7 separate regions of the Homo sapiens genome follow, and regions 1, 2, 3, 5, 6 and 7 are each linked to region 4. Evidence: fine-mapped expression QTL. A gene starts in region 4. Each other region holds a variant in brackets. All regions are shown on one strand. Distances are between the middles of the regions.

What was found. PIP is the estimated chance that this variant, and not a neighbour inherited with it, causes the effect.
Region 1: its variant is the best candidate, but not a certain one, in a credible set for the expression of XYLT1 in unexposed skin (GTEx, PIP 0.70).
Region 2: its variant is the best candidate, but not a certain one, in a credible set for the expression of XYLT1 in T cells (TOPMed, PIP 0.58).
Region 3: its variant is the best candidate, but not a certain one, in a credible set for the expression of XYLT1 in monocytes after LPS (Fairfax 2014, PIP 0.59).
Region 5: its variant is the best candidate, but not a certain one, in a credible set for the expression of XYLT1 in tibial nerve (GTEx, PIP 0.87).
Region 6: its variant is the best candidate, but not a certain one, in a credible set for the expression of XYLT1 in CD4 T cells (Kasela 2017, PIP 0.82).
Region 7: its variant is the best candidate, but not a certain one, in a credible set for the expression of XYLT1 in whole blood (TOPMed, PIP 0.90).

What each region holds. Positions count from the first base shown.
Region 1 is chr16:17,560,047-17,564,163 of GRCh38, reverse strand. No RefSeq gene overlaps it. Among named protein-coding and RNA genes, the nearest start is that of XYLT1, 91 kb to the right of the region's middle. The variant T/C (reference allele first, on the strand shown) is at 1,819.
Region 2 is chr16:17,362,351-17,366,350 of GRCh38, reverse strand. The region is part of intron 1 of XYLT1 (xylosyltransferase 1); the gene reads left to right. Among named protein-coding and RNA genes, the nearest start is that of XYLT1, 110 kb to the left of the region's middle. The variant C/T (reference allele first, on the strand shown) is at 1,885.
Region 3 is chr16:17,087,803-17,091,919 of GRCh38, reverse strand. No RefSeq gene overlaps it. Among named protein-coding and RNA genes, the nearest start is that of XYLT1, 380 kb to the left of the region's middle. The variant G/A (reference allele first, on the strand shown) is at 2,404.
Region 4 is chr16:17,468,795-17,472,888 of GRCh38, reverse strand. It overlaps XYLT1 (xylosyltransferase 1), which reads left to right and starts at 1,929. Exons shown (of 12, transcript NM_022166.4): 1 at 1,929-2,455. The coding sequence starts at 2,093. It overlaps LOC107987234 (a long non-coding RNA gene), which reads left to right and starts at 2,462. Exons shown (of 2, transcript XR_001752091.2): 1 at 2,462-4,094. LOC105371106 (a long non-coding RNA gene) reads left to right here. Exons shown (of 3, transcript XR_933144.3): 3 at 785-1,882. RefSeq lists enhancers at 1,434-1,935, 2,710-2,759, 2,880-3,149.
Region 5 is chr16:17,442,794-17,446,793 of GRCh38, reverse strand. All of the region lies in intron 1 of XYLT1 (xylosyltransferase 1), which reads left to right. Among named protein-coding and RNA genes, the nearest start is that of XYLT1, 26 kb to the left of the region's middle. The variant T/C (reference allele first, on the strand shown) is at 2,147.
Region 6 is chr16:17,094,391-17,098,507 of GRCh38, reverse strand. It overlaps the pseudogene TCERG1P2. Among named protein-coding and RNA genes, the nearest start is that of XYLT1, 370 kb to the left of the region's middle. The variant C/A (reference allele first, on the strand shown) is at 2,325.
Region 7 is chr16:17,356,190-17,360,189 of GRCh38, reverse strand. It overlaps XYLT1 (xylosyltransferase 1), which reads left to right. Exons shown (of 12, transcript NM_022166.4): 2 at 2,140-2,178. Among named protein-coding and RNA genes, the nearest start is that of XYLT1, 110 kb to the left of the region's middle. RefSeq lists an enhancer at 88-177. The variant G/A (reference allele first, on the strand shown) is at 1,642.

The DNA.
Region 1 (4,117 bases), 91 kb before region 4:
CTATTACAAACAGATACTTGTTTATACCTTTCCCTGCATGCATTATAAGAGACTCTCTGGGGTCTCTCAGTGGGATAACTGCTGTGTGGGAAAAGCATGACATTTTGAGTGAAACACATGAGGTCTGGAGTCCAGTTCTATGACCCTCCAGCTTGGTGACTCTGATGGTTAATATTGTCAACTTGATTGGATTGAAGGATGCAAAGTATTGTTCCTGGGTGTGCCTGTGAGGGTGCTGCCAAAGGAGATGTGAGTCACTGGACTGGGAAAGGCAGACCCACCCTCAATCTGGGAGGGCACCATCTAATCAGCTGCCAACGCGGCCAGAATAAAAGCAGGTTGAAGAACATGGAGAGAATAGACTGGCTGAGTCTCCCAGCCTCCATCTTTCTCCCTTTCTGGATGCTTCCTGCCCTGGAACATCGGATTCCAGGTTCTTCAGCTGTGGGACTCTTGGACCTTTGACCACTGACTGAAGGCTGCACTGTGGGCTTCCCTCCTTTTGTTGTTTTGGAGCTTGGACTGGCTTCCTTGCTCCTCAGCTTGCAGATGGCCTATTGTGAGAGCGCACCTGGTGATTGTGTGAGTCAATACTCCTTAATCGACTCCCCTTTATATATACATCTATCCTGTTAGTTCGGTCCCATTAGAGAACCCTGACTAATACAGTAACTACGGGTGAGTCTTCCAACTGTTCTCTGTCCTGTGTTCTGCATATGTAAACTAGGGAATAATGATGCTTCTGTCGTTATGATAATAACCATTGTGAAAATCAAAATAAATCATGTCCATCAAATGCTAATGGAAAATCTGAGCACATAATAGGTTCTCAGGCAGCATTTCCCCCTTCTACTTTTCCCTCCATTCTTCTCAGTCTAATTATTTATTAAATTGTGACTATTCTTCATGGATCAAAGAGGATAATGTAATAGGTAAAGGCTTGTGAAATTACTGTGTTTATCAAACAAAACCAATCGAATATGCATGCTACCACACAATTCAACATGATATATAAAAGTGCTTTGGAAAGTGAAAACCAACCCTCATTCTTTCATTCATTCATTTATTCACTCATCAGATATTTTCTGAGGACCTATTTTGCATCTAACACTGGACCATCACGAGATTGAATGAACAGGCACAGACAGAGACTCCCTCTTCATGCAAATTGTCAATTAACCAGAGGGAAAAGTAGTGAGCAATTAGCATTGCAACTAAGTGCAAAGTGTGATAAGTGAGAGGAAGGAGAATAATAGCAAATAATAATCTTAGCACTGTGTATCCTGCACTGAAATCATTTTAATCCTCACAACATATGAGATAGGGACTATTATTATGTGGATCAGAGTCCTGGTAGGTAGCAGATGACACTGTCTGAGCCATTACTGAGGCTAGTGCAGCGAAGGGACAATTTACAAAGGTGTGGGCAGGACCCAAGGAAACCAACAAGGGACAGTGAAGCACCGAGGCGCTGGCCACATCAGGGAGCTGTTACCACCCTTGGTGCTGAAGGAACACCGGAGGGACGCTTTCATTAAAAGTAATGGCCAAAGGCCAGGCACGGTGGCTCACGCCTGTAATCCCAGCACTTTGGGAGGCCGAGGCGGGTGGATCATCTGAGGTCAGGAGTTCCAGACCAGGCTGGCCAACATGCGAAACCCCATCTCTACTAAAAATACAAAAATTAGCCGAGTGCATCCTGGGTGCCTGTAGTCCCAGCTACTCTAGAGGGAGGAGAATCACTTGAACCCAGGAGGCAGAGGTTGCAGTGAGCTGAGATCACACCACTGCACTCCAGCCTGGGCGACAGAGTGAAAC[T/C]CTTTCTCAAAAAAAATAAAGTAATGGCAAAGACCACAATTACCTTTGCACCAACCTAATAGAGCCAAGAACACAGCTGTCCATCAGAAAGCTTGAAAAGAGGAACTCAGCGCCACCCAACAGGTAAGCATGTAAGCCCAGGGGATCAATCAATAGTCCCATCTCCTCTCTGCCTGCCTCTCATTGACTGAATCCAGACAGAGGACATGAGAACCAACTGATCAGCCAAAGGAATGTAGAACATGGTAGAAAAGTTGACCAAATAGAGCACATTCCGCACAATTGTTACCCCACTTACAAAGGAGGAAGCTGAGGCACAGAGGAAAAGAAAGAAAGTATCAAGATAAAAGACCAGGTGCAGTGGCTCACGCCTGTAATCCCAGCGCTTTGGGAGGCCCAGGCAGGCAGATCACTTGAGGCCAGGAGTTTAAGACCAGCCTGGCCAACATGGTGAAAACCTATCTCTACTAAAACTACAAAAAGTAGCTGGGCACGGTGCTACTCGTGAGGCTGAGGCACGAGAATCGCTTGAACCTGGGAGGCGGAGGTTGCAGTAAGCCAAGATTGCACCACTGCACTCCAGCCTGGGCAGCAGGGCAAGACTCTGTCTCTAAATAAATAAGTAAATAAAAGGTAAAAGACAATGAGGCAGGGACAACCTCTTGATATTATGATATTATGAGATCTAGGAGGGCTTCCTGGGGAGGTGAGTTGGACAGCAAGAAGGGAACCAGCAGAAGGAAGAATGTTCTGGAGAGAAGGATTTGCCTGTGTCAAGGTCCCATGTAAAGAAAGTTCCAGGTGTGTTGGAGAAAGGAAAATAAGGTTAGAGTGGCTGCAGTGCTAGAGCAAGTTGGAGAGAGGCGCGTGAAAAAGAAAGCACTTATTATTCCAATGGGTAGAATCTGTGCCCCCAGGAGAGTGGCTGGGATGCTCCTCAGGGCTTGGCCCCCTAATCCTTGTTCCCATTCCCAGGAGGCAGACTCCAGGCTGCTTTCTGCTCATCAGGTCTCCCCACCTGTGCCTAGAGTGGCCGCTTCACAGCTGAAGGGTCTTGGCAGGATGCCCCGACCGGATGAACCGGCTGGACTTGCTGCTGGGCCTGGAGGCCCCCGCAACTCTGCCGTCAGTCCTGTGAATGATGAGGATGGCCTAATGGTGCGGAATGTGTTTAAAATGCAATCCAGGTGCCAGTCCTATTCTGCATGCATTACCATTAGGGAGACTCCATCCTCGGCCGAACAGGACTCCCGTATCCACAAGGGCACCACTGACAGTGAGATGGCACTGAAATTGACTTTGGAGGGCAGGTGAGAAGGAGCAGACGGAAGGGAAGCAAGGGCACCTCTACTCTGGGTGCCAGGGGATCACTCCAGGTCTCAAAAACTCTGCTGTTCCAAGCTCCTGCCCATGCCCGCAAGGAGTGATGAACACCTGTGTGGAAAGAACAACGTCTTCTAGCTGGGTTTGCAGGCTGGAACCTGGGTAGGGGCATTATATAATTTACATATATGTTTGTAATAACGTTTACCTCATTGATAATGTTTACCTCATTTATGCCAAGTGCAGAAACTTGAAGTTTACTGAAAACTACAAATAAAACATTACTCACTATGAGTGATGAGATATTCCAGCTGTCTCTCCTTTCCTTCCTTCCTTCCTCCCTCCTTTCCTTCCTTCCTCCCTCCCTCCTTACTTCCTTCCTTCATTCCTTCCTTCCTTCCTCCCTCCTTTCCTTCCACTTTTTTCTCCCTCCTTCCTCTCCCCATCTTATTATCCACCTCTATCAACCCATCTATTTATACATGTATCTAATCACAAACAGCTAATTATGGAGTTAGCACACATTGAGCACCTAATTCAATAAATGATTCTAAGTACATTAACTCATTTCGTCCTCACAAAAGCCCTTTGAGTTAGGCATTTTAATGATTCTCATCTTAAGATGGTGAAACTGAGGCACTGAGTGTTTCTTTAATTTGCCAGAAGTTATCATATAGCTAGTAAGTGAGAGAGTGAAGATTTGAACGTAGGAAGCCTGGCTCCAGACAAAGGCTGAAAGAATAGTATAGTATAATGACCATCTGCGTATCTTTTGCCTTAGATTCAAAATTGTTGACACAGCAATTTCTGCTCTCTCAGGAGCTCTCTCTCTCTCTCTCTCTACACACACACACACACACACACACACACACACACACACACACACACAATGTTCTTCTGAACCATTTGAAAGTAAATTTCATATATCATGATGCTTCACCCCTGATAACTCAGCATGCATCTCCTAAGAATAATA
Region 2 (4,000 bases), 110 kb after region 4:
AATGTTAGCTGGTATTTTGATTATTGTCAATATTGACTAGCTATGTGACCTTAGGCAATTTGCATTAATATGGGGGTGATAAATTCTGTTGCTTGCAGTAGCCAGGCCAGCTACTCAGTCTGGAGCTGTTTTCTTGCAAGAATACACATCCAGTGTTGCTAAATCTTCTGTTCTTAAAGGAGACGTGAGAAATCTAGATTTGCATGTGAAGTATCCTGGTTTTAAAACATTGGCAATGAATGATTTCAAGTATTTCATCAAGGCTGCAGGCCAAAAAAAAAAAAAAAAAGCAAACCAGCTTGAAGCATCCACAGGCCACCAGTTGGGCATTCTTGTCTTAACACTCTGTAGCTCAAGCCTCTAATCTTTTCAGGTAGGTTTCTTCAAAACCTTGTAATTCTAAGATGGTAATTCTGTGTACTTTTTAAAGAATTACAAAACCTCTTGAGGCACACACAGAACAAAGTATTAAATACAGGAGTTTAGATTTTTGATAACCATTTGTGCTCAAGGATACACATACCAAGCTGGAGAAGCATTAAGATAATTCCCAAGTTTCCATGAGTCTGTGGTTTCTCTATCTTCCAAGGCTGTGGGTGATGAATTGCCATCTCCAAGGGCCTAAGCTTCATTTTAAGGTTCTACTGCTCATTTCTGGGTCCTGGGCTAAAAAAATGTAGAATGAAAGTAGGATAGCAGAAAGACCAGCTTTTTAAGCTTTTAATACAAAAGAGAGAAAGAGAGCGCGCAATACACCCAGTTTTAACTGCCAACGTTTCTGTAAAACATTGAGAATCCCCTTGTTCTCTCTGTGGGGTTTCTGTTTTCTCCCCTGAGCCCTATTTGAAGGTGAGTTCACATTTTCCAACAAGGTGAGGGCTGTGTGATTCTGGCCTGCATTCACATTCCAAATGCAGTCTTTTTTAGAGAACAAGGACACCTCTGTATCACTGGCATCCCTCCCTCATCACCCCATGCCGCCTGCCCTGCACGTGCCCAGCCTTCGTCTTAGGAGCCAGTGTGAAATCCCATGGGGACATCTGAAGAGAAAGCCCCGTTATGCAACACCTTGGTTGCTGCAATGAGACCCTAAGAAGGAGGAGTTGAAAAAGAGTCCCACTTCCCTGAGGAGGAAATGCTGGAAAGTGGAGGGTGGTAGCCAGGTTTTTTAGGGCAAGGCAAATCTCTTCACCAAAGTGGGGAGAAGGGAACACTTTGCACCCGTCCTGGAAATTTCTTGGGGGTGCAGAGCGTGAACACCAACGCTCTTAAGAGTTTCACGCATGCATCCGACACTTGATGGCTGGCTGGGGATCAGAGGCAGGAATCGTATTCTTTGTCAGTTTGGAAGCTTTTTCAGTCTTGCATTACACATGGTAGAGTTTAGGTATCATGTAAAGTCTCTCCGGTTCAGCGTACGTAAGAATCCCCCAAGGGTGTTTCATAACAATGTAGATTCCTTGGACCCTTGCCCAGAGATTCTGATTCAGTAAGTTCATACTTTTGATTAACACCAGGATATCGGTTAAAGGACTAGTTTCTGGCAACTTACAAACTTGCTTACTGCTCCTGGCTCCATTCCTGATTAGCCCTGTGTTTTTGAGCAAATTATTCTCTGAGAGTATCAGTTATCTGATCTATAAAATGGGGATCATGATACCTCCCTTGGCAGCGTTGCAGGAATTTCGTATGCTTGGCATAAAGTAAGCATTCAAAACGAATTAGCTAAATTTGCTCAGTTCACTGCCGTCACGTGACATAGGTTGCACTCGTATCTACGGTAACTTGCAGTTCAGAAGACTTGTGGTTTAGTAGGGTTGAGTATAGAGGGATATGTCTCAGCCTTTGTAAGCCTGGAGGAAGAAATCAAAGAGAAGATCATTT[C/T]TGAGGTTGTAACTATGTACAGTATTTATTTTTATTTAATGTTCACGACAACTCATGATGTCAGTGGTATGCTGTGTTCAAGACAAAGAGGAGCCTATCTTAGGGTTTCCTGGGACAGTCTGGGTTTATACCTGTTAAGCTTGTATAATTATTAATAGTGTCCCTTACAAAAAGGTCCCAGAAAATCTGTTTTCCACTTTGTTACAGTAGCTCTGTTGGCAAGTATAATCCTACCTGTTTACGTGGGGGTCAGTGAGAAAAATAAAGCTCACAGAAGCTAAGGACTTTGCCCAAGGTCGCAAGTGGTGCTAGGTGGTTGTTATGGACTGAATTGTACCCCCACCCTAATTTCATATGTTGAAACCCTTCCTCCCCCAATACCTCAAAATGTGACTATTTGGAGATAAGGCCTTTACTGAGGTGATTGCATTAAATTAATGGGGCCCTCATCCAATCTGACTGGTTTGTTTATAAGAAAAGGAAATTTGAGCCAGGCCTGGTGGCTCATGCCTTTAATCCCAGCACTTTGGGAGGGTGAGGCAGGCAGATCACCTGAGGTCAGGAGTTCGAGACCAGCCTGGCCAACACGGCAAAAGCCCATCTCTACTAAAAATACAAAAATTAGCCTGGCATGATGGTGCACAGCTGTAATCCCGGCACTTTGGGAGGCTGAAGCAGGTGGATCACTTGAGGTCAGGAGTTCAAGACCAGCCTGGCTAACATGGTGAAACCCCATCTCTACTAAAAATATTCTAAAAAATTAGCTGGGCGTGGTGGCAACCACTTGTAATCCCAGCTACTCGGGAGGCTGAGGCAGGGGAATCGCTTGAACCCAGGAGGCGGAGGTTGCAGTGAGCTTGGATTGTGCCACTGCACTGCAGTCTGGGCCACAGAATGAGACTCCATTTCTGGCACCCCAAAAAGAAGAGGAAATTTTGACACATAGATACCCGGGATGCATAGAGAAAAGGCTGTGTGAGGAAACAGTGAGAAGGCCACCATCTCTACAGGCTAGGAGGAGAATCAGACCTCAGAAGCCAGACCTGCAGACACCTTGACCTTGGACTTTCAACCTCCAGAACTGTGAAAGGATAAATCTCTGTTGTTTAAGCCACCTCACCTGTGTATTATTATAGCAGCCCTAGCAAATGAATACAGTGGTTATGTATGGTTTGAACTCTGGGGCGACCCCTAAACCTGCCCTCTTTTCCCACTGAATAATTCATCTTTGTCCTGCACTACTAGGCCTGCAGCTAAGTGACAGTGTCCCTTTAGGTTTCTGGCTGGTCATTCAGACTTGGCTAGAGCTGGACATTCTCCAGCAGGCTCGAGTCATGAGTGAGTTTTCATTCGCTGTGATCTGCAATCCCAAGAAGAGTTTCTTAGATTTTCCAAGTTATCTGGTGGTTGGATGATGAGTGACAGTGAGACACCATCTTTTGATGGTGGAAGATTCCCAGTTCTGGCCTTAATTAGAGGGCTCTTGGCGGAGAGAAGGCACCAAGCCAGCCTTCTGAAGTGTTCCCTGGGAGCGTCTGTGGAAGAAGGTAGCATGTAAATGTCCATTGTCTATGTTGTTGATTTGGTGGGCTTCACGGAGATACCTGGCTCTGAAGGCGTGAGTTCCAGTGTCATTATCTCTACACCAATGTCATTGCCTAACACCAAAGAACAAGCACTGTCTTCTGAATGTCCTCAAAGCAAAGGAAGAGAACATGCTTTCCAATGGCTGAGGCTTAGCTCAGGGCTCAGAATCCGCCAGGAGAGCCAGATAGGTTTGATGTATGTGTGGAATGATAACGAACAAAGTCCTCCTCCTCTCTCTACTTTCTTTGTTGGGGCTTAATTGCTTGTTAAAATTAAGCCTTTGGCCTTGAGCCTGGCTTCTTGGTCTTACAAGCAAGACTTTTGAGGTGTAGACAAGTTTCATTGCTCTAAGACCTGTAATCAGGCTCCTGCCTCTTATTTAAACAGTTACCTTTGGGAATAGCAGTGTACACAGAGTCACTTTAAACTCATTTCTGTCTCCCTCATGGTGCCTGCCACGCATAGAGCTAGCTACTGAATCGGAACTTAGTAAACACGTGTGGATTGATTTAGCTAACTTTACATGGTT
Region 3 (4,117 bases), 380 kb after region 4:
GAGTTCTCTGAGGTGTAGATGGGGACTCCATCACCTGCCACCACTCAACCCCAGCTTTCTTTCAGATCCCCCCCAAGGAGTTGACTCAGCCTCCCTCCACCCTTGCTCACGCTATGCAACCCCTTGGCATATACATGAGTGGCCCCCGCCCAGCTCTACCTTCCAGAGCCAAATGACAATATGCTGCCTACTTGGAAGGCTTCCTATATCACACAGACCCTTCCTTGACTGTCCTTCACTGACATCTCTTCAATCAATCAGGGCTGCTGGAGGGAAAGCGAGTCCAGTATACTGCAGGTTTGCCCATGACTAGGCTGACACTACTTCATGGCCAGCCTTGGGCTGCCCTACTGGGGGAAGTGTGTCTTCCCAGTTGGGTTATGAAGCTTATCTAGAAATGGGATCATATCTTCTAAACCCTAACCCACTCAAAGTGTGCTCCATGGAGCACAGCATCCCCTTGGAGCTTGTTAGGAAAACAGTCTCGGGCTGTACCCCAGACCTACTGAATCAAAATCCTCATTTTAGCAAGACACCTGGGTGATTTGCAGGGATGCCCATTAATGTTTGAGAAGCACTGATCTATACCTTTCAGGCATCTAGAACAGGTCATTGATTCACCAAATAAGTGGTTACTAAACAGTATTTAAGGAACTGTGACAGAATTTAGAAATATTCTAAATATTGTGAAAGGAAGTAAGTCTTCATCCTTGAAGAACTCATGGTCAAAGAGATAGACAATGACAACTCAGTGTGCTAACAGCTAATTTAGGGGTAAGTGCAGGAACTGTAAGGACAGGATACAAGGGTCACTAATGTTCACCAATTCTTTGAAACTCCTTCTTTCAATGGGTAGAGCATAGTTTTCTTCCCCCTTAAATGTGAGATGGATTGACTGGAATTGCTTCTAACAAATAGATTACGATAGAAGTGTGTGACTTCAGAGGCCAGGGCATACAAGGCATTGCAGCTTCCCCCAACTCTTTCTTGAATTGATCATTCTGGGGTGTATTAGTCTGCTCTCACACTGCTAATAAAGACATACCCAAAACTGGGTAATTTATAAAGGAAGGGGGTTTAATGGACTCACAGCTCCACACGGCTGGGGAGGCCTCACAATCATGGCAGAAGACAAAGGAAGAGCAAAGGGACACCTTACATGGCAGCAGGCAAGAGAAAGCTTGTGCAGGGGAACTCCCCTTTATAAAACCATCAGATTGGCGAGGCGCGGTGGCTCATATGTGTAATCCCAGCACTTTGGGAGGCTGAGGCGGGCTGATCACCTGAGGTCAGGAGTTTGAGACCAGCCTAGCCAACATGGCAAAACCCCGTCTCTACTAAAAATATAAAAATTAGCTGGGCGTGGTGGCACACACCTGTAATCCCAGCTACTTGGGAGACTGAGTCAGGAGAATCGTTTGAACCTAGGAGGCGGAAGTGGCAGTGAGCTGAGATCGTGCCACCGCACTATGGCCTGAGTGACAGAGTGAGACTTCATCTCAGGAAAAAAAAAAAAAAAAAAAAATCAGATCTCATGAGACTTATTCACTGCCACAAGAACAGTATGGGGGAAACTGTCCCCATGATTCAATTACCTCCCACTAGGTCCCTCCCATGACATGTGGCAATTATGGGAGCTACAATTGGAGATGAGATTTGGGTGGGGACACACAAACCTTATCACGGGAGAAGTCAACTGTCAGGTTGTAAGGGCATTAAATAGTCCTATGAAGAGGCCCACGAGATGAGGAACTGAGGCCCTCTGCCAACACCCATGGGAATGTACCATCTTCAAGGCAGACCCTCCAGCCCCAGTCAAGCTTTCAGATGACAGCAGCTCTGGCCAACACCATGACTACAACTCATGAGAGACCTTGATCCAGAAGCATACAACTAAACCACTCCTGAATTCCTGACCCACAGAAAATGTGAAATGTTTGTTGTTTTAAGGTGTTAAGTTTGGGGTGATTTGTTAAGCAGCAGTAGAAAGCTAATACAGGTACCTAACCACATCCTGAAGAAACAAGGAAGGCCTCCCACTAAAGGAAGTCATCTCTAATCTAGGACCTGAAGGGCATATGGAAGCTAGTCAGGCAATGCAGGTAGGAAAGAATGTTCCAGAGAGGGCAAAGGCCGGCTAGAGATTATGTGACACTTCGCAGGAATTAAAAGTGATTTAGACACTGGAGGAAGAATAGTGACAGATGATGCCGGAAAGGCTTCCAGGGATCAGGTTTTGCAGGCCCTCAGGGGCTATAAAGGAAAGCCTTGACTACCTTGAGGACTATGTGGGATTTTCATCAGCATGAGAGTGACATGGACAGATTCACACTTTGAAACATTTATTGTGGTATCTTGGGAAGAACAGGCTGAAAGAGAGGCAAGATGAAACATGGGGAGACC[G/A]GAGACCAGGCTACTAAAACAGTCCAGGTAAGAGATTACAGTAATTTGGACTACAGTGAGGCTTCTATAAACATGATGTGCTTATTTATTGCTTGGAGATGTGACTGCACAGCTGACTGGAGTGTCTTCTGTTTCCATATATGCATATTTACTCTCAGTTGCTGACTGGCTCTGCACCTGTTATCTCAAGTAGGACTTAGAGGTGAAAGGTAAAGTGGTAAAAAAGAGGATCTGTATCAGGACACTGGCCAGCACCCCTACTATCCCCCAGAAACTGAGCCTGTGAAGCGATTAAAAGTCTGGATCTTAGAGGGAGCTCCAAGGAAAACTAAATCCAAAATGCCTCATCTGGGAGGTGAGGACAGTAAAGTCTCCTCCCATGCCTCCTCACTCTCAAAAGATGATATTTTCTCTATCCAGAATAGACAAATCTATATATAAAGTAGATTTGTGGTTGTCTAGGACTGGAGGTAGGGTATGGGGTATAGGAGGGTGATAACTAAAGATTGCTGAGTTTCTTTTTGGAGTGATGAAAATGTTATAAAATTGACTGTGGTGATAATTACACAACTCAATATACCAAAACCCACTGATTTGTATATTTTCAATGGATGAATTCTATGGTATATGAATTATATCTCAACAAAGCATTTTTAAAATATGTGTTTATCTCATATTTAATCAATATACAAGTATCAGATGGAAATGCTGCTTGACATTATATATTTACTTCATTATTGTCTACCAACCTTAGGTAGAATGTATGCTTAATGTGGATGGAACTTTGCCTGTTTTATTCACCACTGGTACCCCTGAGTCCAAAACAGAGCCTGGCATCTAATAGGTGCTCAAAAAAGATTCCTCGAATGAATGAGCATTTTGACCAAATCATCTGAAGCAAATCCTCTTTGGAAAAAGCATCCTTCCTCCTTTCAAAGATCTGTGGGGGTGACACTGTGTTCCATAAAAGTAGCTTGGAGCAAGCTGCCACAAGTAACCTATGATATCGACATCCATGCAGAAACTTAATTCCCAGCAGCTTTGGGATCCAAACATCACACTGGTGGGCTCCTCTTCCATTTGACACCATCCATTTTAAGCTAGCGGAGTCAGCACCAATTAGTACTCGTTAATCTAATTTTCATGAAACTGGATAAGCAGACACAGAAGTTCACAGAGTAGAACAAATTGCTCAAAACCAGAGCGAAATACCTCTTCTATCTTCTTAGCCTCGTAAGGTATAAGGAGCTCTTCCAACAGCAATTGGAAAGCAGGTAGCAGTTCATGGTCACCTTGTATACAGACTTACTGTCTTATCAGAGGCTTAAGCAATGGGAGGTCACATAATAACAGGCCCTGTTAGGCTGGTGGGGAGCCAGAACACAATAAATGAATTATGGCACCCCTTCCAGTTATATGTATTCTGATGCCTGTTCACAAACACGCGTTCTTTCATTTAGCCTTGAGATGTGAGTAGGAATGGATTCATCTATCCAATGGGTGAGGGCATGAAGGCAAAAGGTGTTGGATGACTCATTTATGAACCCAGAGTTAGCGCAAGAGTCCTTGTAGCAAACTTGCTAAGCCCATGAATTTTAAAATCAGGCCCAAGTTTGAATGCTAATTTTGCCACTATTCTCTGGCCTTAGACTGATAAGTGAATGTCTCCAAGCCCCAGTTTCCTCATCTGCAAATTTAGCAGCATCTACAAATT
Region 4 (4,094 bases):
TTTTTTCTTGGCGCTTACTCCCGTCCTGCCCTCATGAACCCTTAGCATTTTTGCACATCTCTACAGCAATGCTTATCTCACCATATATATATATATAATATTATATATATTTACATATAAATATATATATTATATATATGTTATATATTATATATTATATATATTATATGTACATATATATAAATATATTATATATAATATATTTATTATATACATTATATATAATATATATATATACAATATATATATATTTATATATACGTTTTTTAGATGGAGTCTTGCTCTGTAACCCAGGCTGGAGTGCAGTGGTGTGATCTCGGCTCACTGCAGCCTCTGCCTCCTGGGTTCAAGAGATTCTCCTGCCTCAGCCTCCTGAGTAGCTGGGATCAGGGGTGTGTGCCACCATGCCCGGCTAATTTTTGTATTTTTAGTAGAGACGGGGTTTCACCATGTTGGCAAGGCTGATCTCGAACTTCTGACCTCAGGTGATCCTCCTGTCTTGGCCTCCCAAAGTGCTGCGATTACAGGCATGAGCCACCGCGCCCAGGCCTATCTCACTATATTTTAATGATTAACATCCACATCAGGCTTCTCTAGACCTCAGGCTTGCTGAAGATGAGATTAAACCTCATTCACCTTTGGATGCGTGCACCTGGCCCAGTGTCTGACACAAGCTTTGTATTCACGGATGCTTGTGGAGTGGATGAAACAATCTCTTCCCACTCCCTGCCTCATTGTCTGATGAGCCTTCATTACACTCCACTTTCTTCTCTTTGTAAATTAGGATGAGGTGAAAAAGCACAGCAGACAAGATGCGAAGCATTCACGCCAAGTCCTCAATTCACAAACTGATTTGATCTGCTGTTGTATTCCCAGAGTGCTAGGTCCCGTATGGGACACCAACGCCATCCCATATGCTCACTGTTCTGCGCTGCTGTGTATAAAGCCCTGGGCAAGAGGACAAGGGAGGGAAAAACCAGAAAGACTGAGTCAGAGAAGGCTCGGGATGAAATTTGAGTCCATTGGGATCATTCTGCCTAAACGACAGAGGAGAAAGCTTGGGCTCAGGGAGGAGTCCTCCTCCTCCTGGCTCAAGGTCACCGGGACAGACCAGTCAGGATGGGAAAGAACTCCACTTTCAAGAGCAAGACCTGTTTCCCCAGGACCTGGGCCCTGTGCAGACAGGAAGGGGGACTTCAGGATGGATGGGGAAAAGGACACGCTGGGAGGCTGCGGGGCCAGCCTTTGGGGCTTGCATCCTGCGAAGGTTGAGTAACTCCACGGGTCTCCCTTTTGCCGCTATACCACTTGCCAACTGGGTTTGGAGTCTCTTGGCTTGTGAGTCCTCAGGGACCAGAGAAGTGACTCAGTGAACACTTAGTACATCGTTGGCACCGGGGATTGTGTGTGATTCAGGAGTCACTCACAGAGCTTGTGCTGATTAACTCCAGAAACTCACCCAAAGCCTCCTCCCCACCCCTTCAAGCCCAGGATGAAGGGATCAGACTGTGGCTCTGACACTCCTGAAATGTTTCTCACGTGTCCACCTGCCAACCGGTCTGGTACCGACAGAAGATCCCTGGACCGCGAACTCCGGGGCTAGGAGCTTCCTCCACGCACTGCCTCCTTCCAGCGGCCCACAGGGAAAACAGGACCTCGGGACCCCCTCTCTTCCTGACCTCCCCTGGATTCTGAGCGGGCCCACCCTCAACCAAAGGTCCCCTGTTTCGCGGCCCCTGCCTCTCTTTTTCCGCCTTGGGAATTGTCCCCCTCGCCCCCCATCCTACTCCCACTACGTCCTGAGGGGTGTCTGTCTTCTCTGATCGCCCCCACCCCCTTCCTTTCCCTCCTCCTTTTCCTCCCTCGGCTCCTCCCCCAGGCCCCGCCCTCTCCGCCTCGGCCCGCGTCCCCCCGGCGCCTTCCCCATCACCCTCCCCTCCAGCGGGGACAGGGGTGTGGGGAGGGGGGCGGCGGCGGCGGCCCGAGCGGGAGCCCGAGCGGCAGCCGGCGGCCGCGGGAGCTGCGGGGAGCGCGGGGGCGGCCCGGAGCGTGCCGGGGTCCCCGCGCCTCGCTCGCCGGCCGCGCTCCGAAGATGGTGGCGGCGCCGTGCGCCCGGAGGCTGGCCCGGCGCTCGCACTCGGCGCTGCTCGCGGCGCTCACGGTGCTGCTGCTGCAGACGCTGGTCGTGTGGAATTTCAGCAGCCTCGACTCCGGGGCCGGGGAGCGCCGCGGGGGCGCAGCGGTCGGCGGCGGGGAGCAGCCGCCCCCGGCCCCGGCCCCGCGCCGGGAGCGCCGGGACCTGCCCGCCGAGCCGGCTGCAGCCCGAGGAGGAGGAGGAGGCGGCGGCGGAGGAGGAGGAGGACGGGGGCCCCAGGCGCGGGCGCGGGGAGGCGGCCCCGGAGAACCGCGGGGACAGCAGCCGGCCAGCCGGGGGGCACTGCCCGCCCGGGCTCTGGTAAGATGCCCTTTCGGCTCGCGCCCCGCGGCGAGGGAGGGAGGAAGGCAGCCCGACCCCACGCCCCCCTAGCCCTTGAACTCGGTCATCAGACTGGGACTCTGCAAGCCTACCGACTCCACATCGCCTCTTGCCCCGGGAAGCCGGGTGGGGTCCCTGCCAAGGCTCAGGGGTCGTGGGCTGCCCCTTTCAGAGTCTGAGCACGGACCCCTTGGGGTCTGGGGGAAGTTTTCTCCAGCGGGGGCGCTTTGGGGGTTACCGGAGCCTGGCTGGGTTCCTGTTCCCCATCACTCTTGCTGGGGACCCCAGGTGACTTGCTCCGTGCGTGTAGGTCTTGGTGACTCGCTCCCTGCCTGAGTGAGTGGATCTCCCCGGATCCTCAGCCGCTGTTCCTGGGCGGTTGTCGCAGCAGCATCTCTCTGGTTTTTGCCGAGCTGGGTGCAGACAGTTGAGCCCTCTGTTCGTCCTGGCCTGCGATGAGGGCTGAGCTGGGCGTCCCAAGTCCCCGACCATGCCCCTGAATCAATACTCAGTCCGGGGTGTCTGGTCTTACTTTGGGTCTTCTGTTTCTCTTCTCTGGATGTTTGAGCCTTCCGTCTTCACCTTCTCTGTCTCTAACCTTGCCGTCTCCCATGCCCTCTGTGACTTTATCTCCTCCCCATCTCCAGTTTCAGGGCATGGCTCCTTCTCCTAGCTGGTTGTCTCTGTCTTTCTGTCTTGTTGCGGCCGGTTCAGGTCACCAGCTGTGTGTCCGACCACACCGTCAGGGCTTCCACTCCTATGGGATTACTTTGCCCTTCGTGGGTGTGAACAGTCAGGGCTCTGAAACTGTTTTTTCCGCAGATCTGGGGCCATCTGGGTGGCTGGGTGGGGAACTGACTTGTCTTCCTACCCTGTCCCTAACTTCTCCAGGGATACCTTTCCCACCTTCTCTGGGCTGCCTTGCCCAGCCTACTGAGCTAGGAGCAGGAGCACATGGGGCAGGAGGCCGGAGTCCCCATTTCAGAGCCAAGGTCTCAGTTCTCCAGGGGCGTGAGTTCTGCCTTAGGGCATAGCCAATGTGTTGTGTGTCTGTCTGTTTCTTCATCACACTACTTGTCTGCAAGGATTTGCCTAGCCGTTAAAGGATATTAGACACCAGGGGGATGGTTTCAGGATCCTGAAGACTGAATGCATATTTCTATCATTTGTCACTTTGGAAGTCCTCACTGAAGACTGCCTTAGTACACAGCGTGATGCTTTCTGAGCTGCTAAACTTCTTCGGAGTCTGTGCGACCCTTTCTGCCGGAGTGCAGCTCTTCATGCCTGAGAACTGAGCCAGTCCCAAGACGTGATGTGATGGCATTTCACGTTGCTGTGTGGGTAGCAGGGAGAAGTCTTTCCCTCATTTGCGGGGAGAATAGTGGCGTGAGCTGCCTGACGGAGAACCAGAACATTCCTAGTGTCCTGCGATCTCTTCTTTACAGAGAGGGGTACTCTGAAACGCTGCCTTTGAACTCTTGGAGTTGATAGTGATGGGTTCCCGCAGAAATGCAATTAGAAGTTCTTTGTGCATCCAGAGCCCAGGAGGTGGGGTGGGAGGGTTGTGGGTCGTGTCCTGCTGGTCCAGTGTAAGAACGTGTAGGGGAGACATGGTGGG
Region 5 (4,000 bases), 26 kb after region 4:
GGGTTGGTTGAGTCTCCAGGCTGAGTGGGAGTCCCCAGACTTTCACCAGTTCAGAGCAAATCTTTTGAGTCTTTAGAAGGAGTTCCTTGTAATGCAGACGATGGGGTCTTCGCCTACCTCCTTCCAGCCTGATCACCTGCAGAATCGAGGGAAGACATGGGTGTTTCTGAAAGCAGGTCTCACTCCCAAGACTGGGAGGGGCACTGTGTTTTCTGAATATGACACTCTGGGGCTTGTTGAGCCATTTTTTTTTCCTAGAAGAGGCAGCATCACCTGTTGATGGAAACCAAGAGCCTGGGTTTGAATCCTGGATTCACTCCTTCCTAATTGGATGAGCTTGGAGCAGTCAGGTTCCCTCTCTCTGCCTCAGTGTGCCATCTGTAAAGTGAGGATGACAGTGGTCCCTAATCTGAAAGGTTATTGTGAAGAGTCAATAAGTGAGCATTTAAAGATGAAGTACATAAATACATCTATATATCTGTGAGACTGCTGTTGTCTCACTTAGTCATCTTTATTTATGTATGTATTTATTTTTGAAACTGTGGAGCATGGCTTGATGAGCAGCTCACAGAGGCTGGATTTCTCCCTCAGCTGGACACCTTTGTGCAGTGCCCAGCCTGCACAACTGGGCTTGGCAGCCCTTTATAGGATGTCACCTATATTAAATAGCAGGTGGTTGCTCTCCAAAGAAATCTTGCTCTCTCATTTTCAAGCCTGACGAGCTTTTCTAGATCTCTCATATCTATAGGTGCTCACCCAAGTCTACTGTTTGACCGACCACCGTGGCCCGAGCCTGAGTTTCCAGCTGGGAGTTGGAATAGACTCTTGAGCATCCCTCGAGAGGCAGGGTGCAACACATCACCACAAGGCCTGGTGCCTCCTGAAGAGCGGTCTCCCTGCTAGTGTCCAAACTTTGTAAGAGTTCCCCCTCTTTATCCCATTAAAAATAAACACCGTTTTCTTCACTCACTTCAGCTGCTGAATGGTGCCCCTGAGAACAAGCGCTTGTGTTTCCTCCCGTGGGCTCCAAAGGGAGAGGAATAAACAAACTATAAACAGCTGTTTCTCCGCTGGTGACGGGATTCAGACAATAGACCCTCCACGCGTGTTAATCAGCTGCCTTTTCTGAGGCGAGTTTGCATTGAGGCCACAGAGGAGCCTCCATGCTGGGGCGGCACTGGGTGGAACTTCCTGAGCCAGTAGTGAGAGTCGCTCAAAAGAGCCCAGCCCAGGCCTCCACGCAGCCCAGGTGAGCCCGGGGCCTCTCTAGACAGATGTTCTGGCAGCTGCCAGGAAGGGCTCCCAGCCTTCCTTTCTGGTGACTTCTTGAGAGAGGCCCTTGGGCAGAAGAGTGGCCTCCAGCCGACTCACTCTATGTGGTCACCTCTTTCTTTAACAATGGATGGTGCTCACTCAAATGCCATTCATCTGACAAATATTAATATTTATGGAGCAGCCTCTACGTGCCAGGCACTGGGCTAGGTTCTTGGGACGTATCAGTGAACAAGTGTGGCTGATGCCTGTAATCCCAGCACTTTGGGAGGCTGAGGCAGGAAGATCTCTTAAGCTCAGGCTCCTTGAGACCAGCCTGGGTAACATAGTGAAACCCTGTCTTTCCAAAAATCAAACAATTAGCCTGGCATGTTGGTGCCTGTGGTCCTAGCTACTTGGGAGGATGAGGTGAGAGGATTGTTTGAGCCCTGGAGGCAAAGGTTGTAGTGAGCTGAGATCGTGCTACTGCACTTCAGTCTGGGTGATAGAGTGAGACCCTGTCTAAAAAAACAAATGGTGTCCTCCCTTCATCCATTCACTCTTCTAACCCATTTTTATTTTACCAAATATTTAGTGAGCACCTACTATGCTCCAGGTGCCATAGCTAGGTTCTAGGGACACATCAATGAACATTTGAAAGTGCATGTCTGCCCTTTATCCATTCATTCCCTCAGTCTGTATTTTGACAAGTACTCATTGAGCACCTACTATGTGCCAGGCACTGCACTAGGTTCTTGCGACACATCTGTGAACATTTGAAAATATATGCCTGTCCTTCATCCATTCATTCCTTCCAATAGTATTTATTTTAACAAATATTTATTGAGCATCTACTATGTGCAGCATGCTCTCCTAGGCACCTACAATAAAATGG[T/C]GAGCTGGGCATGGTGTCTTGTGCCTGTAGTCCCAGCACTTTGGAGGCCAAGGCGGGAGGATCACTTGAGACCAGGAATTCCAGACCAGCCTGGGCAACATAGTGAGACTCTGTCTCTATTAAAAAAAAAAAAAAGAAGAAGAAGTTAGCTGGACATGGTGGCATGTGTCTGTAGTCCCAACTTCTTGGGAGGTTGAGGCAGGAAGATCACTGAAGCCCAGGAGTTTGAGGTTACAGTGAGCTGTGATCACCATTGCAACCTGGGTGACAGAGTGAGAACCTGTCTCAAAAAGACAAAAAAAGTAGTGAACAAGATAGAAAAGGTCCCTATACTCCAGTACTGAGGGTTAGACTGTAAATTATAAACATATAAATAGGATTAGTTTAGCAATTAGTGGTCTTCTAAAAACCACTGTGTATTAGACGGTGACTATGGTGGGCTGAGACTTGTTTGGCTGGGATGACCAGGGAAGGCCTCCTTGAGGAGGTGATATTCGCACTTACACCTAAACATGAAGAGGAAACATTATGAGGACCTCTGAGGAAACAGATTTCCAGCCAGGAGGCACAGAAAATGTGAAGGCTGGAGGAAGCTTGGGATTCAAAGAGTTGATGAACGGCCAGTGTGCCTGGTGGTCATTGAGTGAGGGGAGCCTGGTGGGGGAAAGGAAGAGGGGTCAGTGGGTGAAAATATGGGGAGCTTTGAGATTGAGACCAAAGCAAGGAGTTTGGATTTTATTGAGAGTGTCATGGAAAAGTATTGGGAGCTCAAAGCAGGAAAAGGATCAGCTTTGAGCTTTCAAAAAGAAAACCCTCTAGTCTAGATATGATGACAAAGTGCAAAGCAGTTTGGATTGGATCCTGGAACAGAAAGAGGTGTGTATTTATATAATGTCCCACTCCTGCTAGATAGGTTAAGACCCATGGGGTTAGGTGATTAGTTGTATCACTACGTTTCTAATGCCTGTCATGTAGCAGGAACTTAATATATGCTGTATTAGTCCATTCTCACACTTCTATAAAGGTACCACCTGAGGCTGGATAATTTATAAACAAAAGAGGTTTAATTGACTCACAGTTCCGCATAGCTGGAGAGGCCTCAGGAAACTTACAATCATGGTGGAAGGCAAAGAGGAAGGCAGGCACATCTTACATGGTGGCTGGAGAGAGAGACAATGCAGGGGAAACTGTCAGTTTTAAACCATCAGATCTCGTGAGAACTCGCTCACTATCATGAGAACAGCATGGGGGAAATCACTCCCATGATCCAATCACTTCCCACCAGGTCCCTCCCTCGACACGGGGATTACAGTTCGAGATGAGATTTGGGTGGGGACACAGAGCCAAACCATATCAGATACTATATCATGTATGTTTATATTTTATATCATACTATATATACATACTATAAAATGATGATAATATAGGTAGCAAGTACTTACTGAGCATTTACTATTTGTCAGGCACATGCCAATTCCTTTGCTTCAATTAACTTTTAATCTCTGCCACCCTGTGAGGTAACTACAATTTTCATACTTATTTTACAAAAGCATTTAAGACCCTTGCCTGAGGTCACAGAGTTGAGTCGAGATTTGCACCCAAGCGGTCTGCTCCAATGCGTCCAGTCCTCAAATGCTGAGCTAACTCTGCCTCTCATAGAGTGAATGCAGAATGAATCAATAATTTGTATCATCTTTGCTGATTAAAGTAACACACGTTCACCGAGAAACATTTAGGAGATGAATATGTGAAGAAGAAAATCCAAATCCCCTATATTGCCACTCTCAGTTTAGTTTTGGAGGAAGGTTAAGCCATGAAGTTGCTAATTTGAGTAGGAATAAGGCGATCTTGTTT
Region 6 (4,117 bases), 370 kb after region 4:
CAGAGCAGATTAGGTGAGACTCCAGAAAAACACCGGGAATATTTTCCAAATTACACATCCAGACTGATCCACCTACTGCCAATTTTCAATTGCCTCTGACCAAAATAAGAACCCCTCCCCCAACTTAAGGGTCAGATAATCCTGTGTCCAAACATTTGTTTTTTTATCATAGATTAGCTAAGTCAGATTTGAGACAAATTCCCTAATCTCTCTGGGCCTCAGATTCCATATATATATATATATATATATATATATATATATATATATACACACACACACACATATATATATACACACATATATATGTATATACATATATATACACACACATATATATGTATATACATATATACACATATATATGTATATACATATATATACACACATATATGTATATACACATATATATACACATATGTATATACACATATGTATACATATATATATACACATATATATACACATATATATATATACACACACACACACGTATAGGGGATAATAATTACCTATAAAGCTGCTGGGAGAATTTTAAAAAGACAAAGCCTGTGAAATAGATAGCCTAGTATCTGCATACAGAAAGAGCTCAGTAAATATCAGTTATTTTCGCCTTCTCACTCCAAAGGTGAAAGTTCCTTGAAGGCAAGGACAGTGTCTATATTCTCGGCACACATTACATGCCTTGACAATGTAAGATGTTGTGCCAGTGTTTGATGAATGAATGAATGAGCGTGTGAACTGGACTGCTGCTACATCCATAATTTCCTCAGGGGCGTTCCATTTAGTCTGGCCTCCACATTTGCTATTGCAGACTGGATATCTTCCTGAAGACTCCATTTGCGACAAAGTGGCATCACCTTGACTTCAGAGATTTAAATGAGATTTTTTCAAAACACCCCAAACTGTGGGAGACACAGTATTGCCCCCCAATCTCTTTGGAGGGTCTTGGGGAGTCAACTTCAGCTACAACCCTGGGTCTCATTTCCACTGAATTGGTTCATTTTACAGATCACCCCTTTATTCTGCAAGTTCTTTTTTTTTTTTCTCCTTTCTGCACTGTATGACCTCTCCCTAATAAGTACCCTGGTCCCTTTATTCCTCAAAATACAATTGTAGAGCTATGTAGAAAGCAGATTCCATCAAGGCATTCAGATAAAGGATTGCATAAGATTTCAAATGATTTAGAATATTACATACCCCCATTCTCAGAAGTTTTAGAAATCTCTCAATGGCCACCTGCCTGGGCAATTTCCAGCTTCCAGACACGTTTCCATCTCCCTCTCTTTATTCCCTGCCTGTTCTGTCTGCTCTCCTGCACCTCCCAAGACACTCTGTTATCTCTTTTCACCTTGCTGACTCTTCGCAGACCAGCCCCCCTCATGACTTCACATTCCACACCTAAAAAATACTGGAAAGCTAAGTTCTCTCGTAAGTTCCAAGCTTCTATGTTCTTACCTGAGAGGAGATCTGGTGCCAGCTATGATGACAATTACTACAAAACACTCTCCCTCTCCACTCCAATTACTCGGATTTAATACAATCCCTGGCTTCCATGCAGTGTCTGAGCATTTTGGCTCTATTCCCTAGGTGGTGCTTTTAAAAATTTTTTTGTAAAACCTCTGGGGCCTCCTTCACCAGCAAGAAATTATTTTAGCATCACTGGCCTCAGTCTCATTCTATCATCAGCATCTGCTAATTTAATCAAGAATGAGTTGTGAGCAGGGAGGTTGCAGGTATCCAAAGATGAAACTGGATGAATTCCAGGAGCAAGAATTTCTCAGAACTAAGAACATTGACATTGCAAGGTTGGGTCCAATAAAGTACACTTCTTCCTGCCAATTTCATTTTTCAACCTTGACTATTCATGGTTTGGATCAGCAGATAGTAATATCACCTTTGTCATCAAGGAGCCTAGGATTTATTAATCTAATATGGGTATCGGCCCAAACTTGGCTTCAAAGAAACAGGAGAAGAGCAAACAGGGACATTAGAAATATAGAGCCCTGGGTTTTGGTGCGGTCGCATGAGATGCATCAGGCGCTTGATGTCCCTGAGTCCCGGTGCCTCAGCTGCCCAGTGCCCACGTTCATAAGAAGGCAACAAATTCTTCTCCTCTACAGAAGGATTTTGCAAACAATTTGGCAAGTTCCAAATGATTCTGATTGCAAATACCTGAAGGACTGGGCAAGGGAAGAATTCAGAAGAAACAAAACTGCCACCGAAGAGGATACAATCCGGTTGATGATTACTCAAGGCAATATGCAGCTCAAGGAGTTAGAAAAAACACTTGCTTTAGCAAAATCTTAACTATAGCATTATTCTGA[C/A]GGATTTTCAAAGTCTCCATGTATTTTGTTTCATTTAGGATTGACAGTGGACAACACAAAGCCCAGTCTTACTATTTGTATGTACAGTATTTGGTGATAGAGAGCAAAGGAAAACACATCAAAACAGTTGCCTTAACACTGAAAAACATACCCTGCATTTTGAAAATGTTTATGGATGTCTCAGCAGTTTTTTAAAGAAGAAAAAACCACTAACAAATGGCCAGTAGATGCTGGACACAATCATTAGGGAAGTGTAAATCAAAACTACTATGAGGCCGGGCACAGTGGCTCACGCTTGTGGTCTCAGTACTTTGGGAGGCCAAGGTAGGTGGATCACTTGAGGTCAGGAGTTCAAGACCAGCCTGGCCAACATGGTGAAACCTTATCTCTACTAAAAATACAAAAATTAGCCTGGTGTGGTGGTGCATGCCTGTGGTCCCGCCTACTTGGGAGGCTGAGGCAGGAGAGTCACTTGAGCCCAGGAGGTGGAGGTTGCAGTGAGCTGAGATCGTGCCACTGCACTTCAGCCTGGGTGACAGAGTGAGACTCTGTCTCAAAAAAAACAAAAACAAAAACAAAAAACAAAAAACAAAACAAACCCTGAGATTCACATTCATTAGAATGGCTGTAGTTAAAAAGAGAAATAATAGTAACTGTTGGTGAAGATGTACAGAAATTGCGGGTGGGAACGTAAAATGGTGTAGCAACTTCAGAAAACAGACTGTCAGTTCCTTGAAAGATGAAACAGCTGCTGTATGATTTAGCAATTCTACCCCATGCCCATAGCCATTATTTGGCACTAAAAAGAAACAAAGGATTGATATATGCTAAACGTGGATAAACCTTGAAAACATTAAGTGAAAAAAGCCAGTCACAAAATATCACATGATGATTCCATTCATATGAAATGTCCAGAATAAGCAGAAAGATTAGTGGTTGCCTAGGCTGGCTGTAGGTAGAATGGAGTAACTGCTAATGGGTGTAGGGTTCCTTTTCAGGGTGATGAAAATATCCTACAGTTAGCTTGTGGTGTAGGCTGCACAACTCTGAATATACTCAAATCCACTGAATCATACATTTTAAATGTAAGGTATGAATTGTATCTCAATAAAGCTGTTATTAAAAAGAAAAAACTCTGAGGTGTAGGACTGAAAGTACACTGACACCAGGAGATACCCTGGAACTTTCTCAAAAAATCCTGCATTATCCCTGAGGGTTGTTCAGGTATGTTCTTCACATGTGTCATAGTTTGATAGAGGACTCATCAAAAAGATCACTACTTGGAATCTAGATCTTTGTTGGAAAGGGAAGAGAAAGAGAAGCTTAATGAGCACATTGAAGTACTTAACAGAAAGAAGAGGGAAGACTTCTGGATGAAACCTCTGTGTGTACCTTAACATTCACGTGGAAGTAGTAAAAATAAGATTCTGGGTGCAGTTCTCCTCCAATGACAGGAAAAAAAACAAAGAGAATTTGAAGAATACGTTAGAGACAAATACATTACAACCAAAGTTGACTTCAGGGGACTTTTGAAGGAGATCAAATTTATAACAAATAATTTAGTGAAAAATGTGAAAGTGAAAGCTTGTGGAAGATGCTGGAACATCCATCCTGAAAATTGAAGTCTTCTGTTCGTCAACAGAACAGCTAAGAAGCTAATCTAAGAATGACCAGCACCTGAAAGATGTAGACAACATTTTGCAGAATGATAAATGGTATTCAGTACTGGACTGTGCCTGAGGAGAGGCTTCAACTGAATGTGGATGTTGATGACCTGGACTGTCAGGGTCCAC
Region 7 (4,000 bases), 110 kb after region 4:
TCTGGGCATGCACCCAACACCCCAGTCTGGTGCTTTGCTAGCACTTGGCTTGGAGATTGAGGCTAATTTTGAGGCTGAGATGCAGCTTCTTATCTTATAATCAAAATCGAGGTGGTAAGATCTGAATGGACAGACAGACAGACACAGACTACTCTGACCTGAACAGCAGATGTTGCATGCTCTCGCCCACTAAGCTCGTACCAGGTCTGACTCATGCTGCCACCCACAGACCAGGAGGATGGTCTTGCTTCCCAAAGACAAAAATGGGTCCTGCCCCAACACAGGGAAACAGGAAGTACAGAGTAGACTCTTTCTGCATGCGAGTGATACAAAACCTGCCTGATCAAAAGAAAGTTGCTCTATGAATGTCGGGTTTTACCAATCCTAGCTGCCACTTCTTCACCCCTGGGAAGGAATCAGTAAGGATTTGAAGAGACAGGCCCAAAACAGCTCCTTCATGACTTCCCCAGATTCCTTTATAGGTCAAGGCTGCAATGTGGGGAGACGGGGAGAACATATTCCCCTCCATGTTTTCTTGGGTATGAGGAAGACTCAATGCCTGGGGGAATGTGAGAATTAGAGTGGGATGTTCTCTTGGCAGTTTCCTTTCAGTTACACCAATGGAGAATTACTGGGAGTTGGACTCAGAATTGGAGTTGGGGGACGACGAATTCCTCTTCCTAAAGGACAGAGCTGAGCAGAGCTCACCGTATTTCTGAGATCGTGCCTCTTACACTCCTCAGAATTGGGCATCATTACAAAGATACCGTAGAACAGTCATCAAGACAGTGAATGGCAGCTCACCTAGAGAAGGGGTTTAGAAAGTTCCAATTTCCCTGCATTTCCTTCTTGCTCACAGTATGGGACAATGGGCTGGTGCTAATTTGCATGGCTTCCTAAAACCCCGTGGTGGAAAATCTGCTAAGACAAAGCAAAGCTTCAAACTGGATGTGTACTTCAGGGCCCTAAAATCATGCCCATTCTCTATCAGAGGAAGCTTGAGGTTGTTTTTCCCAGAATTATAAATCCAAGATGATTAAGTTCAGAGCAGACGTGGTATAGACAGAAATAGCCTTCATGTGCTGGGTTTCCTGTTTTCTTTGGAAACCACTCACTGGACACCACCAACTCCTCCCATCAGTCTTTTCCTCCTCCTGTACCCTCCCTGTCTCTCCTCCAACCCAAAGGGTTCATGCTTAATGACCCGAGACAGTACCACCAAGCATTCCCAGTCAATCGGCTTTTGTACAGAGTGAATGAATAGGACATTTCTCTGGCCTTCTCTATCCTAAAAAAAGACCTTCCCCAGACCATGGAATGTGCTCCTCAAACCAGAAATTAAGCTGCTCGCTCTCATTCCTTCCCTTGTTCTTTCCAAGATCAGACACAAATTGATGATGGCCTTGTTCCTAGTCAGGACTTTATATTCTTTCTGGTTTATTCCTAATCCTCTTACGGAGCCAAACTCTCCTTATAGAGGGTTTGGATACACGTTGAGCTCTTTGGCAAGGGTGCCTTGTTTCTTTTTTCTTTACATTTTGTTGTTTTGTGTGATCTCCATGTGGGCATTTCCTTCATAAAAACTTGAGCCTCTTTCATCACTTGTGCGTGAGAGGAAGTGTTGGGGCGGCCTGCAGACTG[G/A]GCCAAGCTGTCCTGATGTCTCTGTAGAATGGAGGACACAGGTTGGGCTGCCCTCCCCGTGGGGTGGCTTGACCACTGGGGAAATCAAGCTTTGTTTGAAAATGATGCTGGGAGCTTGGCGTGGTGGCTCATGCTTATAATCCCAGCACGTTGGGTGGCCGAAGTGGGAGGATCATTGAGGCCAAAGTGTTGGAGAACAGCCTGGGAAACATAGCGAGACCCCATCTCTACAAAAATAATTTTTTAAAAAAGCCTGGCATGATAGTGCATGCCTGTAGTCATAGCTACTTGGGAGGCTGAGGTGGGAGGATCACTTGAGCCCTGGAGGTCGAGGCTGCAGTGAGTGAGCTATGATCATGCCACTGCTCTCCAGCCTGGGCAACAAAGCGAGACCCTGTCTCTTAAAAAAAAAAAAAAAGGAAAGAAAGAAAAAGATGCTGGGGTAGTAAGTTAACTTTTTTTCACTCCTCACGTGCATTTTCTCCTTTCATCCTACAGGATCCACACCCAAGTCCGCTCATCACCCTGGAGACTCAGGTAAGTATCTTTCCTGTCTTGGCCACTTATCTCAGCCTTAGTATTCCAGCTCTCAAGGGGACTTGTCCCGTGGCTCTGAAAGGCTGGACAGGCCCATGGCTGCCCCTGGTCCCATTTGGATGTGTGTGTGCCTGCACATGTATGTATACACACTGGCATATAGTGTACACGTGTGTGCAATGGTGTGGGTGTGCATGGGTGCACATTCGCACCCAGGTGTCTGGTGCCCCTCCCACCTGTGGCGAGAACCATAATCATTTCTTTTGAGTTTTCGTCTGTCCTTCGCTCCTGCCCAACCATCATGCGGAGGTTCATGCAAAGGAGAGAGGAGACAGAGGAGAGCCATGAAGTGGGAAGATGCTACTCTTTGATGCCTGAACTTGGAGGACTTTTATTCCTTGGCAGTGAGGGCAGCATATGGAAGGAAGTTGCACCCTTTCATCTGCTTGCGTGTTAGGCCATTCTGAGGAATTGTGATTGCAGTGGCATTTCCGTGTGGGGAGGAGGATGACCAGCGGGTCTTGTAAGGGAGGGCACGGCCCTGACTGTCTGCTTTCTGCCTTCCTGGGAGCTAGGACAGTGCAGCAGCTATGAGTATAGGCCTTGGAGTTCAACAGAGCCAGGTGGAATTCCACCTCTGTGTCTTCTAGCCCTGCAGTGTTCATGGGGCCACATAATGTCTAAGCCAGTGTCTTCGCATCTGAAACGTCATCCCAGTGATAGTGCCCACCTTGCAGAGTTGTGGTTGAGGGTCACAGGAAATGATGTTTATAAAGTCCGGGGTACGTGCTAAGTGCTTGTGAGTGGTAGCGTTTTTTTTTTTTTTTTTTTTTTTTTTTGAGACCGAGTCTCTGTTGCCCAGGCTGGAGTGCAGTGGCATGATCTCGGCTTACTGCAAGCTCTGCCTCCCGGGTTCACGCCATTCTTCTGTCTCAGCCTCCCCAGCAGCTGGGACTACAGGCGCACGCTGCCACGCCCGGCTAATTTTTTAATATTTTTTCTAGAGACGAGGTTTCACCGTGTTAGCCAGGATGGTCTTGATCTCCTGACCTTGTGATCCGCTCACCTTGGCCTCCCAAAGTGCTGGGATTACAGGCATGAGCCACTGCGTCCGGCAAGTGGCAGCTTTTTAAACCAATAGAACTGTTACTTTTCCTGCTGGATCTGAAGGGGACGTTTCTTATCTTTGGATTAATCATTTCCTTAGCTCTTTGGGTTTGGCTGACAGTAAAGAGAGTAGGCAGACAGGACAGGCCTCGTTCAGAGCCCCACAGTGAATAGCTTGCAAGTGTCAGACACAGTCAAACCTGTTCGAACGTTTCAAGGCTGAATGACAGCTCAGCGATTTCAAGGGTTTCTGGGGTGGACTGGAAAAGACCACCTGCTCCCCTGGCCTTTGCCTCCTCCACCTTGGGTCCTTGCCCTCTCCTTGGCATCTCTGCTTGGGTTCTCCTAAGAGGAATGAGGAGACCTTCCTTGCTTCCTCCCTGATGGGGAAGGCCAGCAGATCTTCACAGTTTCCTTGTGCTTTTCTGTCCTTGCATTCTCTGGCACACAGGTATAGCCACGGGGGCCCCAGGGCTGACCAGGCGCCAGGGCCGGCAGGGAAGTATAGAAGGTGCAGCTCTGAGGAGGAAAAGGATTCGGTTTCCTCTGCCTGTTTGGCTGTCCTCTGGCTTGGTTTTGTCTGTCCTTATCACCTTGACCACCTTTGCCTTATGTAAATTTCATCTATTCTATAAAGTCACCTAAAAATACATTTTTCCTTAACATAACTCACTTTGCTTTCAGAAATAGACTTACCTTAATCTAATGGTTCTAA